Regions from separate parts of the Homo sapiens genome. Here region 2 is linked to region 1. A link means that fine-mapping ties the variant in region 1 to the expression of a gene that starts in the linked region. Tissue or cell type: whole blood. Region 1 holds a variant in brackets; the other region holds the start of a gene. All regions are shown on one strand. Distances are between the middles of the regions.

What was found. PIP is the estimated chance that this variant, and not a neighbour inherited with it, causes the effect.
Region 2: SPHK1 starts here. The variant in region 1 is fine-mapped to the expression of SPHK1 in whole blood (INTERVAL, PIP above 0.99).

The regions. Positions count from the first base shown.
Region 1 is chr17:76,410,633-76,418,090 of GRCh38, reverse strand. All of the region lies in intron 1 of UBE2O (ubiquitin conjugating enzyme E2 O), which reads left to right. Among named protein-coding and RNA genes, the nearest start is that of SPHK1, 30 kb to the right of the region's middle. The variant G/A (reference allele first, on the strand shown) is at 3,381.
Region 2 is chr17:76,380,133-76,387,590 of GRCh38, reverse strand. It overlaps SPHK1 (sphingosine kinase 1), which reads right to left and starts at 2,982. Exons shown (of 6, transcript NM_001142601.2): 1 at 2,785-2,982; 2 at 1,937-2,140; 3 at 1,454-1,606; 4 at 1,276-1,370; 5 at 1,083-1,198; 6 at 1-785. The coding sequence starts at 1,946. The coding sequence ends at 5. RefSeq lists silencers at 2,615-3,314, 3,895-4,034, 4,055-4,344.

The DNA.
Region 1 (7,458 bases):
ACTGGGTGTAGGCCCACTCCACGTGTCCCAGCTCTGTGACCTCCCCCTGCGCCTTCCTCCTGAGGTGGTGAAGAGCATTGAACCTCATCTGCCCACTTCTCCACCTCCACTTCTCCCAAGGCACAACAGCAGCAAGCAGCTCCTCTAAATGCAGTGAGCCAGGACTCAAATACCAGCGGAAACAGCACCATCATGGAGACTGGGAGGAGTTTCTGCCCAATTCTGCAGGTGCAGTGAGACATTCATCTCTTCACCCAGACGTCTCTTCGCGGACGCTGATGCATCCATGCAGCATCAAACACCTGCTCCTCTTCCCTTCCTCCTGTCTCGCCTGGGCCTGCAATAGCTGTTTCCTGCCCCTGGACATGCTTAGCATTCTTTCCTCCTGTAGTCGAAGGCCCTTCGTGGTGCTCTCTGCCAGGTGGTTTTAGTGATGGCCTCTAAAGACCCAGCTCAGTTCAGCCACCCAGTGCACTCTCATTTGGCCTCCATCCATGTCCTCTTATCACTGGTGGTGGGTGTGTCCACACTCATAAAAAGGAGGGGGTAGAGAATTTTGACCATATTAACAAGGAGGTGGTTAATACTCTAAGATTTCCTGTTGGTTCTCTTCAGATAGCTCTCCTGGTGTATCTAAAATCCCCTCACTGTAATAATACATTTAAATCCTGATGTGCCCATACATGAAATTTTGCATTGTGTTCTGTTCTTTGTAAATGTTATCGTCTTCTCCAGGGAAGAGGTCCTCGTCTAGGGACCTGCCCTGGTGCCCCAGCCATGGGGGCCTCCTTGGGCCATGCTGCCCAGGGATGTCGTTGACTTTCGGCTGGCCTGCTCTGATGGTCAATGGGGGTGCCCACATGTGAAGAGCAGAAGCCTGCCCCTGAGTCAGGGAGAGGTGCCAGGCAGGTGGAAATCAGGACCCCAGGAGGTGTTTAGGGGACAAGCTCTGGAGCTGTAGCCGGAAGGGCCTGGAGCTCATTCAGCTCAGTGTTGCCCAACCCCCTGATGAGGCATCTGGTGCCCAGAGATGTGACATGACTCCAGCACACACAGCTGGGGAGTGGCAACTCTGTGGCCCCTGCAGGACCTGGTCCCTGTGCCCTGAAGCTTATACTCCACATCTCTGTCCCCTGCAGTGTGTAGCCTCCATGTGACCAGCCGCAGCTTTGTCTCACTGCACCTGCAGAATTGGGCAGAAACTCCTCCCAGTCTCCATGATGGTGCTGTTCTAGTTAGTATTTGAGTCCTGTTTCACTGTCCTGAGATGAGCTGCTTGTTGCTGTTGTGCCTTGGGAGAGATGGAGGTGCAAAGGTGGGCAGTTGAGGGTCTTAGGACCTAATGACCCAGCCAAGAAGTGACATTTTGGTCAACTCCCACTCTCCAGGCCAGCTGGTGTCCCAGTGATGCCAGCATCCCGGGATGGTATTCATTTCATCTGCCTTGAAATAGTAACTGCAGGTGTTTGAGAAGCGCGGGGAGGTTGGTGTGGGCTCAGGGAGGTTGTGTCTCTTCCACGTGCGGTCTGTCATGGCTGAGAGCAGGCCCTGCCCCACTTCTTGGACACAGCCCCTCCAGGGCTCCTCTTCTCCTGGGGAGCATAGCTACAGGGGAACACCGCTGTTTCCCCCAAATTTTCCCAGAAGCAGCTCAGAGGGATGCAGTCCCTTTTAGCTGTTTCTCTGGGGGGTGTGCATCAGAATCATTTGGGGAACTTTTTCAGATGATTCCCAGGCAGCAGGTCTGGGATGGGGCCTGAGAGTCTGCGTTTCCAGCAAGCTCAGGGAAGATGCTGGGCTGCCAGTCCAGGGCCATGCTTTATATATATACATATACATACATATACACACATATATACACATATACATATACATACATATACACACACATATACACATATACATATACACACACACACGTATGTGTATATAAAGCCACACTTTATATATCTATACACGCACATATATGTATATATGTATACACATACGCATATACATGTATGTACATATGTATACACATACGTATATACGTGTATGTACATATGTACACACACATATATACGTGTGTGTACATATGTATACACATACGTATATACGTGTATGTGCATATGTATACGCATACGTATATACGTGTATGTGCATATGTATACGCATACGTATATACGTGTATGTGCATGTGTATATATTTGTATATACGTGTATGTACATATATTTGTATATACATGTATGTATATATATTTGTATATACATATATGTGTATGCACACACACACACACACACACACACACACACACAGTCTTGCTCTGTTGCCCAAGCTGGAGTGCAGTGGCGTGATCTCAGCTCACTCAAACTCCACCTCCTGGGTCCAAGCAATTCTCCTACCTCGGCCTCCTAAGTAGCTGGGATTACAGGTGCGCACCACCACACCCAGCTGATTTTTGTATTTTTAGTAGAGACCAGGTTTCACCATGTTGGCCAGGCTGGTCTGCAACTCCTGACCTCAAGTGATCCAACCGCCTTGCCCTCTCAAAGTGCTGGGATTACAGGTGTGAGCCACCTCGCCAGGCCCAGGGCCACACTTGAATGGCAGCATGGTTCCAATTGGTCCAGGTGTAGCAAGGGCCATGCTTGGAGACCAGACAGGTCAAATGAGGAAGGGCAGGTGAGCAAAACAAAGGCTCTGGAGTCCTGGCACTTGGGTGACCTTAGGCAGCTCACTTACTTCTCCAAGCCACCCAGTCTCCTGTGGAATGAGAACAAGAGTGGTGCCTCCTTCGTGGGGGTCATAGGGTTGGGAGAGGCAGTGCACGTGGGGTTCTTTCCTGGCAGGCTCCGTCAGGATCAGTTTGTGTGATTAGCAGCCTGGGTCCTCATTCCGTGAACTAACATGGCATCAGACACTGAGGGGTGTTGAGGCTGTGAACTTGCTCTGTGCCTGGCCAGCTGGCCGACTCCCTTCTTGTTCTCAGGGATGCCCGGCAGCCACAGGACCGCAGCCTGTCGCATCTGAAATGGAGCAGTCCGGGGCCACTGGTTAGGTAGTGATACCCAGTCAGGCCTGACAAGAACAGAACATGGAATCATGCTGATCACTTTTCTGCCTTCTACTTATACTTTTGAGGAAGGAGGCGGCCTTCTCCTAAAGATGCCCATCTGTCCCCTCCCTTCAAATGCAGGAGCCAGGCCTGGGCTGTTCTTGTCTTTTTTTAAGCCAGGTTGACAAGCCCAGAGCCAAGACAGAGGGGTGCAGGGCTGGGCTCCTCGGCTCCCAGCTCCTGCCGCCAAGTGCACATATTGCTTATCAAACACCGCAGCATCTGCAGAGACCAGCCCGCTGGCCCCCTGCCAGGCCAAGCTCTGCAGTCCTTCCCCCTCACTTA[G/A]CAGGCAGTTGGACTCAGTCCCCTTTCTCTGTCCCTCGGGCAGGCTGTGCCTCCAGGCCATTCCAGCAAGCTGGCGAGCTGCAGCCGAGTTTCCAGGCGGTGATGCAGCAGCACTGTATTGCCCAGCCTGAGAGTCTGCGTTGTGAGATCAGAGAGGGTGTCAGGGGTGAGGGCGTGGGGGCTGTCCCTGGTGTGCAGTTCCCCTGCAACCCCGGTCCTCCTGCCTTCCCCCACCGCCATCCAGACAGGACTCAGTTTCTGGTCTCCCCACCCAGCTTAGTGCTCTATTTACTTGTGTATAACTGTTTTCAGGTGTAATTTCATCTTACCTCCCTCATCTCAGTGTAAGTTCTAGAAAGCTAATTCCCATTCTTAATTATATATTTGTATTCTTGTCTTGTCTTAAGTCTATAGAAAACACTCAAAAACTATTCAATCAGTTGACCTCAGTCTTAGCACAGCTTCTCTGTTGAATGGCTTCCGTAGCTCATGATTGACAGAATTTTCCAGCTAGGGGCACCAACATTTCTTTTACTTCCAGCCATTTCCGGAGGTTCTCCCTCCCCTCCCCCAAGCATGTGAGGCCCCCTGGCCATTTGTGCTTTGCTGGTAAAACCTTCTGTCCTCAGGTGGGCAGTGAGCTGATTGCCGGGTTATCAGGGCTCAGCCACATGATGGTCAACTGCTCTGAGAAAGTCCTTACACTGGCACCAGCCGGAATTACTGACCATTCACATCCTCAAATCCAGTCCAAACTGGAAACTCGGGCTTAGGAAGAAGCTGGAAGAGGAGTCCAGCTCCAACAGGAGGCCCCATTTTCTGCCTCTCCTGGTTTTACTGTTTGAGCCAATTTAGTAACATTTTAAGTCAGGTCAGAAAGTTAAAGTTCCTCACCCTAAAAGTGCCTGAGTGTGACTGTGTGGGTCTTGGGTTTTGTGTTGGTTTGCATGTTTTTTGGTTCCAAGACCAGCTTCTCATGAGAGGGATGTCCTCCCTCTGATGTAACTGCCCTGAAGCCTGGCCAGAAAGGACCGAGAGTCGGCGCAGGTGCTGGGCAGAGAATTCAGTAGAGTGGAGATTCTCCAGCTTCTCAGCAGTCACTCACGGTAAAATACACATTTTATATCATGACCCGGGACACATACGTGTTATATATGCAACTGAACGGGTTTTTTCAAAATATTTTAACTGCAGTTACTTTTTGCCAACCTAATAGTACTTATTCTTACCACATGTATATTAATGCACTCAGGTTTTTTTTTGTCCAGTGTTGACCATGACCCACTAAATTGGTTCTATAACCCACTAATGGGTCACAACACATGGTTTGAAAAAAAGTGCTGCTTTGGGGAATATGCCATTCTACGATTTCCGCAGCTTTTTCAGAAATCCACACTGGGATAAACTTTCCAATCTGGTGTAAGTAGCTTCTCAGGCCATCAAGCTGCATTAACATTGTGGGATGGGGGTGAATGTCACTGGTCCTTACTTCCTCCACCCCATCCCTACGTCAGATTCTTGCAAAATCTTTAAAGACCATATGTGTACCTTATTTTATGTTTGTATTCTTGTCTAGCCTTGAATATATAGGAATCACTAAAAAAGTGGGATCCTAGGCCTCAGCAAGGTTTCCTGCTTCCACCCCCGCAAAACTGAGTTGGGTTTTTTTGTTTCATTTTGTTTTGTTTTGTTTTTGAGACAGAGTCTTGCCCTGTCTTCCAGTCACCTAGGCTGGAGTGCAATGGCGCAATCTCGGCTCACTGCAACCTCCGCCTCCCGGGTTCAAACGATTCTCCTGCCTCAGCCTCCCAAGTAGCTGGGATTACAGGTGCCCACCACCACGCCCAGGTAATTTTTGTATTTTTAATAGAGACGGGGTTTCACCGTGTTGGCCAGGCTGGTCTCGAACTCCTGACCTTGTGATCTGTCTGCCTCAGCCTTCCAAAGCACTGGGATTACAGGCTTGAGCCACTGCGCCCGGCCGAGTTGGTTTTCTTAGTTTGAAAAATATATATGCACTAACACACGTGACCCCTGTCTTGAACTATAGTGGCGCCACACCTGTGCTGGCAGTGGAGTGGGCACATGGCAGCGTGGAGCTAGACCCTTCAAGCTCAGGGACAACCAAAGAGCCAGAGAGGCCTCAGCTGAGACAGGAGGGGAGGGAGAGAGGCTGGTTAGGAGCCCCTGAGGTCCCCAGCACAATTGGAAGCTCTGTCTCTCCCACACCCCCAGTTGGCCACTGTCAAGTTCACTCTTTTTCTATACACCTAGGACTCAGACCCAGCTCAGACAATAAGAGATGGGGGGTCAGGGAGGGGGTGGAGGAGTGGCGTTTCTCAGATTGTTTTTACTCTTTGGGAAGTATCAAGTTGGAATTTAGAAGTTTCCAGTGCTGGTCTAACCTCATCTTCCTTTTAGGAATCTGGTCTTTGAGTCCTGGCCTAGGTCAACAGCTTCAGTCCTGTGTGTGGCTGCTGGACCTTCAGAGGTCTAGGGTCTGGCTTAGTCCTACAAAGGGAAAGCCTCACTCTTTGAACACAAATCCAGGAGCCATTGCAAGCTGACCTGTTGTCTACACACTCACCAGGGACCTAGTGTGGGGCTGGTCGTCCGCTTGTCCTTGAGGTCCCAGGCTGTCTGTGAAGCCTCAGCGGGCACTTGGCATGATGCTGGACCTTTTCTGTTTGAGACTACTGCAAGCTGTGAGCTGAAAACCTAGTATTGGGGCCAGGCACAGTGGCTCACGCCTGTAATCCCAGCACTTTGGGAGGCTGAGGCAAGAGGATCACTTGAGCTCAGGAGTTCAAGAACAGCCTGGGCAACATGGTAAAACCCAGTCTCTACAAAAAAAATAAAATTAGCCGGGTGGTGGCATGTGCCTGTAGTCCCAGCTACTCAGGAGGCTGAGGCAGAAGGATTACTTGAGCCCAGGTGGTTGAGGCTGCAGTGAACCCTGCTTGCGCCACTGCCCTCCAACCTGGGTGGCAGAGTGAGACCCTGTCTCAAGAAAAAAAAGAAAAAATCTGGTATTGATTACATCACTAACCTCCAGAAGCGGTGGGGTTGCCTTTTACCCCGGGATTAAAAGAGAGCACCCATGTCTCGTCCTGTTTGGCCTTCCCTGGTGTCTGACACCTGGAGATGACTGTGGCATGGCTGGTGGCTTCCAGCCTTGAGCTGTAAGTGCTTAGGCTCCATGCAGGCCCCTGCTTTTGGACTTCTTCCAGCTCCCCTTTTTGAACTGGGAGCCCATTTAGTGTTCAAATGCTGGTGCTAGTGGCCAGGCACAAAGCCGCCTTTTCCCTTGGGGCAAGGGCATGGCCTCCAGGAGCAGCCCAGCCTTTAGGAGCCATCCGCTCCTACAGGGACATGACAATCAAAATCACTTGAAAGTAGCTTCTTGGCCAGGTGGAGCGGCTCACACCTGTAATCCCAACACTTTGGTGGCAGGAGGATTGCTTCAGCCCAGGAATTTGAGACCAGCCTGGGTAACATGGCAAAACCCTTTCTCTACAAAAAATTACAAAAATTAGCCAAGCATGGTGGCGTACGCCTGTAGTCCCAGCTATTCAGGAGACAGGTGGGAGTATTACCTGGAAGATGGAGCCATGATTGCACTCCAGCCTGGGCGACAGAGTGAAACTCTGTTCTTCCCACCCACCCCCTCCCCCACCACACCAAAAAAAAGTAGCTTCTTTATTTAGCGTCTTTGTATTTTCAACATGTTGATCAGCCTCAGTTTGTGTTTTCTATTCCTGGATCACTTTATACAGTGAATTTGGATTCCACCTGGTCAGTCAAGGTCAGTGTTATGAATGAGAGTCTGGACCAGGAGCTGCAGGACGAGCTAGTTGCTTTTGCTGTGTTATTGGGGGTCAGCCTCAAGACTGCAGCTCAGAGAAGCAGCATGTGCCTTGGGAGTCAGGCAGCCGTGGAGGGAGAGTGCTCCTGGCAGGAGAGGCCCCCGGTGAGCTTCCCCGGCTCCTGAATGCCTGCTCTGAGTGGCCCCCAGCATAGCTTCGGGGAGCTCAAATGGGGCACAACAGAAGTGCCCAGCCTCCTGCCACGTTGCCCT
Region 2 (7,458 bases), 30 kb after region 1:
GGGGTCATAAGGGCTCTTCTGGCGGTGGCATCTGCTGGGGCTTCCAGCTGGGCGGGGGCTCCACGCAACCGCTGACCATCCAGAAGTAGTTTGGGTGCACCTGGCCCTGCACGGCCTCGCTAACCATCAATTCCCCATCCACTGCAAACACACCTTTCCCATCCTTGGGCTCCAAGCGGAAGGCGACCACGGGCACATATACCAAGTAGGGGCATTCATACTCCATATGCCTGCCCTTCTCCATGGCCAGGAAGAGGCGCAGCAGCATGGCACGAGACACTCCCGCCCGCACGTAGAACAGATGCATGACGCCAGCTGCACAGCGGCCCATGGGTGCAGCAAACATCTCACTGCCCAGGTGCGAGTGCAGCAGTGCCAGGACTAGCACAAAGTCCTCGTCGGGCACCACTGTCCAGTGAGAGGGCACTGGCTCCTCCAGTGGCACAAGGTGTGCATCTACCGGGCCCTGCTGGACCACAACGGGGGAGGCAGGTGTCTTGGAACCCACTCTTCCTACAGGGAGGTAGGCCAGTCGGCCGCGGTAGGTGCGCAGGGCTGCCAGACGCAGGAAGGTGCCCAGAGTGAAGCGCATCTCCCCCAGACGCCGATACTTCTCACTCTCTAGGTCCACATCAGCAATGAAGCCCCAGGCCAGGCTGAGCACAGAGAAGAGGCGCAGCCCCGAAGCCGTGTGCAGAGACAGCAGGTTCATGGGTGACAGCAGCCGGCGGCACAGCAATAGCGTGCAGTTGGTCAGGAGGTCTTCATTGGTGACCTGCTCATAGCTGCAGGGGGAAAAAGTCAGATAAGGCAGGACAGGAGCCCCCATGTATCCCCCGCTTCCTCCTCCCGGGGAGTGGGAGCTGGCAAAGCGCCATGTGGTCCCTGGGGAGTTGGCAGGACTGGTAGGTGACAGATGGAGCAAATGGAAGCAGTCAGCTGGGGTCACCAGGAGAGGGCCCCAGGACTAAGGGAGAAGGGGAAATGGAAATGATCTCAGCCTATGGGAGCTTAGACAAGAAAACCCCCGCGGTAGAGGAGCACTGACGGGAAACAGGCCTACTCTGGCCCTGGGCTCTCACCCAGCATAATGGTTCAAGGAAGCTGCCAGCGCGTTGCCAGAGCCTGCTGGGAGGCTACACAGGGGCTTCTGGATGGCGGTCTCCCAGTCAGGCCGCTCCATGAGCCCGTTCACCACCTGTTGAAGCACACGTGGCCTCAGCCTGGGACGCACCGCGCCAAGCCCCAGGCCTAGCCGCGCAGTGCGGTCCTCACCTCGTGCATCAGCCCGTCTCCAGACATGACCACCAGAGCGTCCCAGCGGCCCAGCTCCTCCGACCGCACCAGCTCCCGCGCGTGGTTCCGCCGCTCTGCAGGGAGACCGGCAGCTATCAGGACTGGGGGGGTCCCCTGCCAGGGGATGCTCCCGAAACCCCCTCCGAGAGGTACTCACCAGTGAGCATCAGCGTGAAGGAGATTTCAGCCTCAGCCAAAAGGGGCTGCACGTGACTCCGGAAGAGCTGCAAGGCCTTGCCCTTGCCGCCGCGCGGGTTCAGCAGCACCAGCACGCGGCAGGGCCGCGGGAGCACGCCCCGGGGGCCGCCCGCTGAGAAAACAAAACCAAAGAGGCCACGTCCGCAACCGACCACTAGGGGGCCACGGGTAACAATGGGGCACTAGTGTGGGAACTTGGTGCCCGAAACACCCCGGTAATTGACCCTGGCCAGAGGAGCGGCCTTTGCTGGGAGACCTGGGGTGGGGACGCGGCGCCCCTGCCACCCCCTTCCTTGGCTCAGATTCGGCCGGCTTCTGGCCTCGTGAGGGATAATGTTTCTCCCGATCGTCCACAGCCCCTTTCGTCCAGCTGGGCGTTCCATCATTCCTGGCGAGGAACAGGAATCCCCCTACAGCCCTTCCCAGCAGGAACCCCACAAACCTGGATCCATAACCTCGACCCGCGGCTCCCGCTGCCAGGGGGTCCCTGGCGCTGTGGGGGCGCTGCCCGTGGCGGCGGCTCCTGCCTTCAGCTCCTTATCGGTGCTGCCCAGGCGGGCGTCGCAGGGCCGGCTGTGGGGCTCGCCTTCCCCGCCCGGAGCCGTGGCTGCAGGAGCACCGGCGTCATTCCCTGCGGCGGCTGGACCTGAGGGAGAGAAGACAGCGCTGGCGGAGTCCGGGGCCGCAGCTGCCAGAGGTGGGGAGCGCCCGACTAAATCCCGGGACCACGCGCGGGGAGCCAGGTTCCCGGGAAGTCCAGAGAGCTGAGGTCCGGTGCCTCCGAGGGCGCCCCCGCCGTGTGACTAAGCCTACAATCCCTGAGAAGGGCGCCTGCTCCGGGGCTTTCTCCCTGGGGCTTGGGGTTCGGTTCCGGCCCGACGGATGAGTCAGAGCCCCGTGGCTCCCTCCGACGGACTAGCTCCTCACCCCTCGGGGCTGCCAGGGGGAGGGGAGTCCAGCTGCGTAAAAATCCCAGAACTTGAGCGGACATTGCTGGGCACGAAGTTCTGGGAGAGGATCCCTGCCCCAGCCATCCAGGTTGCCGTGTCCCCTGCCCGGAGCTCCAGAGCGGTGGGAGCCGCGGCGCGCGCTTCTCAGGGCCCCGCTCCGTTGCGACGCGCGCGGCGCTCGTGGGAGCCGCTCCCGGGTCGCGCCAAAGCCAAGCCCGAACCGGGCCACCAGCTGCCGCCTGCTCTCGCCCAAGCGACAAGTGGCCCAGTTCCCGGGGCCCCGCGAGGGCGGGCCGCACAGGAGCCACGAGCGGCGCGAAGGCAGGGTGGGCGGCCCTACCCAGTCGGTCCGGTTTGCTGGGGAGGCGCCACCGCCGTTCCCTACAGTGGCCTGGGGCGGAACGCAGCTCGTCCCAAGCTCAGCCCACGTCTGAGGGACTGGAGCGCCCCGCTGGAGCGGACTCCCCGGCCTCGCTCCCTCCGGCCTCAAACTTTTCGCTCAACTTCGCAGCCGGCGCCGCGGAGCGGGGAGGGCACTGAGCCTCGGCGCCGGCCTGGCTCCGCCCCGCGCTCCCGGGGGTGGAACCTGAGCCCGGCGCGGCCTCGGCCTCTGCCCGCCTCCGGCCTCAGCGCGCCGCCTCCGGCACGGCCCGCGCCCACGGCCGGGCCACGAGCTGGTTCCCGCCCGGGTCCTAGGAAGCGGCAAGCGCGCCCCCGCCGCTCGTCCTAGGCGTCTGGCTAGAAGGCGGCGCCGCGACCTGGCCGGGTGAGCTGAGGCGGCAGGCCGCGAGGCGCGGAGTCCCGGGCCCGGCCGCGAGCGCAGTGTCTGGGGCGCGCGAAAGCGACCGCGCAGCGCAGACGGAGGCGCGGGCTCCGCGCGAACTCGTGTCGGAGCGAGCGCCGGGCGCGCGCGGCTCCGCTCTCCCGGGGGACCCTTGGTTTCACCTCGACGCCACGACCTCGCCCCCGCGGGTGCTGTCGGCGCCGGGATGCAGCGCCCCTTTTGCGCGCTCTGCCCTAGCCCACCCGAAATTCGAGGCCCGCACGCCACCCGGGGCGCCTCTCCAGGCCGGGGCGTCTCGCCCGCCGCCCACCAGCTTCCCTCTTTCTTCCTCCCCCGCGCTCCCACGGAGGTTATTTTTAACTTCCCGACGCTGCAGCTGGGCTACCGAGCCTGAGGCCGCCTAGCGCGCTGTCCCGGGTAGAGCAGGCGACAGGCCGGGGGCTCCGAGCCGGAGAGGAGGCTTGACAGTGTAGATGGGCCTGGGGGCCCCCGTCGGGATTGGAAAGCCAAGCATGTGGTACGTGCCCCCCGCCCCCTCTGGCTCAGCGTGAAGAAGGGGCGCCGGAAACGCGCTCAGAAGTTGTCACTTCTTTGGAGGCCAGTAGGGACGCGTTTGTCAGTGTGTTTGTGATACACTTATCGCGGCAAGCCACAGAACGTGTCCGCGAGCACCTCGAGTTAGATCCCTGGGGGGTTACGGCGGAGACGGAGGAAGAAGTTGCCAAGGCCCATTGGTGACCTGCCCAGGTAGGGCCAGAGTTAGGAGAAACCAAGCCCCTGCGGGAGGCTGCGGGGCTCGCGCGCCCCCGCCGGCCCCACCCGCCCCCACACACCTCTCTCATCGCTTCTTAAAGTCGAGAAGAGGCAGGTCCAGGAGGAGCACGCAGCCAATTAGCCGGGCGGCGCCCTGAACTCCGGCACGCCTCCGCGGTGTCTTCTCTTCCGGAGGACCCAGGCAGCTCGGCCCCGTTTCCCAACACTTGGGGGGTCAGACGGGCGGGACCCGAGAGTCCCCGGGCGGGTCGGGGGGCACTGGCTGGGACGCGGGGTCCCTGGGGCCGCAGCTCCGCGCGCGTATCGGCGGGTGCGCCTTCGCCTTGCGCGGCCCCCGGGCAGTCCCCGCTGGGTCCAGAGCGTCCCGAGCGCGTTCCGGGAAGGTGACTCAGCGACGCGCTCAGGGGTCGAAAAACTCCGAGAAACAGGAACGAGGGGAGGGAGCAGGGGCGTCATCCCCGACTCCTGGCGTCGCGGCGCGTGTCGGAATGATGGGTCCTGCACCTCCGAGCCCCCCACCCCCTTGCTCCAGGAATCCGGCGCGGGCGGGGGAGAGAGCCCTGCAGCCGCAGTGCCGCGGTCATGCGCTGCGGGGACGCGAGCGGCGGCTGTGGGAGGAGGGGGCTCCGCGCGGGAGCCCAGGACCAGATCCGTCCGCCCCTCCCCTCTCCTCTGCCTTCTTCCCCTCCTCTTCCTCCAGCGAGGGACTTTGGTGCCTAGAAAACGCGAATCGGAGGCTGTGCTCCCCGAGATCTCAGCCTTCGAGGGTACTGGCTGCGGAGATTAGCTGGGGCAGCCTTCCCCGTCTGCTCCCCGCCCCGGAGAGCATTTCCACCAAATCTGAAAAGCTCTGTCATTAGCCATAGAGTCTGAAGAGGGGAAACTGAGGCACAGGGAAGCACTGTGAGTTCGTGGTGATAAAGCCCACCTGGTTCAGGGTCCCCCCTTTTTTTTTCCTCCTGGGGCCCCAGAAAGGTCGGATCCTGCGCCTCCAGGCCCACTACCACCAGCCTTGAGTCCGCGGAGCGGGCGGGGGCGGGGTTGACTGCAAACTGAGTTGGCAAGGGGAGGCGGGGCACGGGCTCTTTATCCAACGCCTCCGGGCCCCAGCTCCCCTCCTGGCTCTGGAAGGCCCCGCGGGAGGGAGGCGAAGGGCAAAGCCCTCTGGCCCCGGTTCCAGGCCGCACAATGGGTCCTCTGTCCTCCCTGGCGCCTAACCCCCTGCCCCCCTCACCTCCAAGGCCTTTGCCCCCCTCATTCTTGTCATTCACTTCCCCCAACCCAGGCTGCCTTTCTCCAGACCCCTTTCCCCTTCTCCCTTTCTAAAGAATTTGATCCTATCTCCAGAAACTCCCCCAGCTGCATCCCTGCTCAGAGAGGCAGGATTGGCCAAGAGCAAGATGGTTCCCCTTCCCACGGTTGCGGGTCGGGGGGCGGGCACTTGGATCTCTCAAGCTGCCAGCTTGGCCCGTTTCCCACTGTACTTTACTTCCTTTTTTAAAAAAGAAAAAAGGACAAGGCGGGAAGGAGTTGGGGGGGCCTGAAACCCTGAGAGGTGAAGAGGCTTGCACAAGCCTCCAACCAGTTCCCCACAAAGCAGAGAAGCAAACCTGTGAACCCAGACCCCACGCTGAGAAGCCAAGTCCAGCCAGAGCTCCCCTCTGGGCCTCTCTGTATCCCAGGCTATTTCTCCCTGAAGGGCAGGTATCTGGGGATCTGGTGCCTGGTGGATTGCTTGCCGCAGAGCTGTGGCGTCTCCCTGAGGAGGAGGAAGCAGCAGGCCGGGCGCAGTGGCTCACTCCTGTAATCCTAGCACTTTGGGAGGCCGACGTGGGTGGATCACCTGAGATCGGGGGTTGGAGACCAGCCTGACCAACGTGGAGAAACCCGTCTCAAACCCCGTCTCTACACCGGGTGTGGTGGCGCATACCTGTAGTCCCAGCTACTTGGGAGGCTGAGGCAGGAGAATTGCTTGCACCCAGGAGGCAGAGGTTGTGGTGAGCTGAGATCGTCCCATTGCACTCCAGCCTGGGTGACAGGGCGAAACTCCATCTCAAAAAAAAAAAGAAAGAGGAAGCAGCTCCAAGCCCTCCCCAGGCTTCATCCTGAGTCTGGAAACAGCTGAGCAGCCGCTGTGCTCAGCAAGGCCCACCGTGGGCCTGGGAACAGGCCTGGGCCGGCAGAGAGGTCTGATTTGATCACCAACCCAGAGCTTGGCTTGCAGGTAATCTGCTTCACAGGTGGGAGACTTTTTCTAACTTCCCCAGCCTCCCCTTCCTTGTGGGCAGCCTCCCCAGGGAGACACACCTGAGAACCCCCTTTTTTCTTTTCCCGAGAAAGAAAGCAGGCATTCACCTGGCCTGGTCCCAGCTCTCCAGAAACTTGGAGTCAAGGCTGCCAGATGGCAAATTACTTGCTTTTATGAGGAGAGGATTCCTGCCATCTCACCCTTCCCTGAAGCTACCTTCCCTAGGAGATTTCAGCTCCCTAATTGCATAGCCTCAAGGTCTTCCTTGACCTCAACTTCTTTCCCTTTTTTTTTTTTTGAGACAGAGTCTCGCTCTGTTGCCCAGGCTGAGGCTGGAGTGCAGTGGCGCGATCTTGGCTCACTGCAACCTCTGCCTCCCGGTTTCAAGCAATACTCTTGCCTCAGCCTCCCGAATAGCTGTGATTACAAGTGTGAGCCACTGCACCTAGCTAATTTTTGTATTTTTAGTAGAGTTTGTGTTTCACATGTTGGCCAAGCTGGTCTCAAACTCCTGACCTCAAGTGATCCGCCTGCCTCGGCCTCCCAAAGTGCTGGGGTTATAGGCATGAGCCACCACTCCGGTTTTTCCCTTTTTATGGTACTTTACTGCCTAGGGGGTTGCAAGGACCGGGGAAGGGGGAGGTTCTATCTCACAAGCTCTTTGAGCTTAGGGGCCGGGCACGGTGGCTCACATCTGTAATCCCAGCACTTTGGGAGGCCAAGGCGGGTGATCATGAGGTCAGGAGATTTGAGACCATCCTGGCCAACATGGTGAAACCCCCGTCTCTACTGAAAATACAAAAATTAGCTGGGTGTTGTGGTGCATGCCTGTAATCCTAGCTACTTGGGAGGCTGAGGCAGGAGAATCGCTTGGACCCGGGAGGCGAAGGTTGCAGTGAGCTGAGATGGTGCCACTGCACTCCTGCCTGGGGACAGAGCAAGACTATGTCTCAAAAAAAAAAAAAAAAGCTTAGGGCTGGTTGGGCGCAGTGGCTCACGCCCGTAATCCCAGCACTTTGGGAGGCTGAGGCGGGTGGATCACGAGGTCAGGAATTTGAGACCAGCCTGGCCAAGATGATGAAACCCCATCTCTACTAAAAATACAAAAATTCGTCGGACGCGGTGGCAGGTGCCTGTAGTCCCAGCTGCTCAGGAGGCTGAGACAGGAGAACTGCTTGAACCCAAGAGCGAGCCGAGATTGCACCACT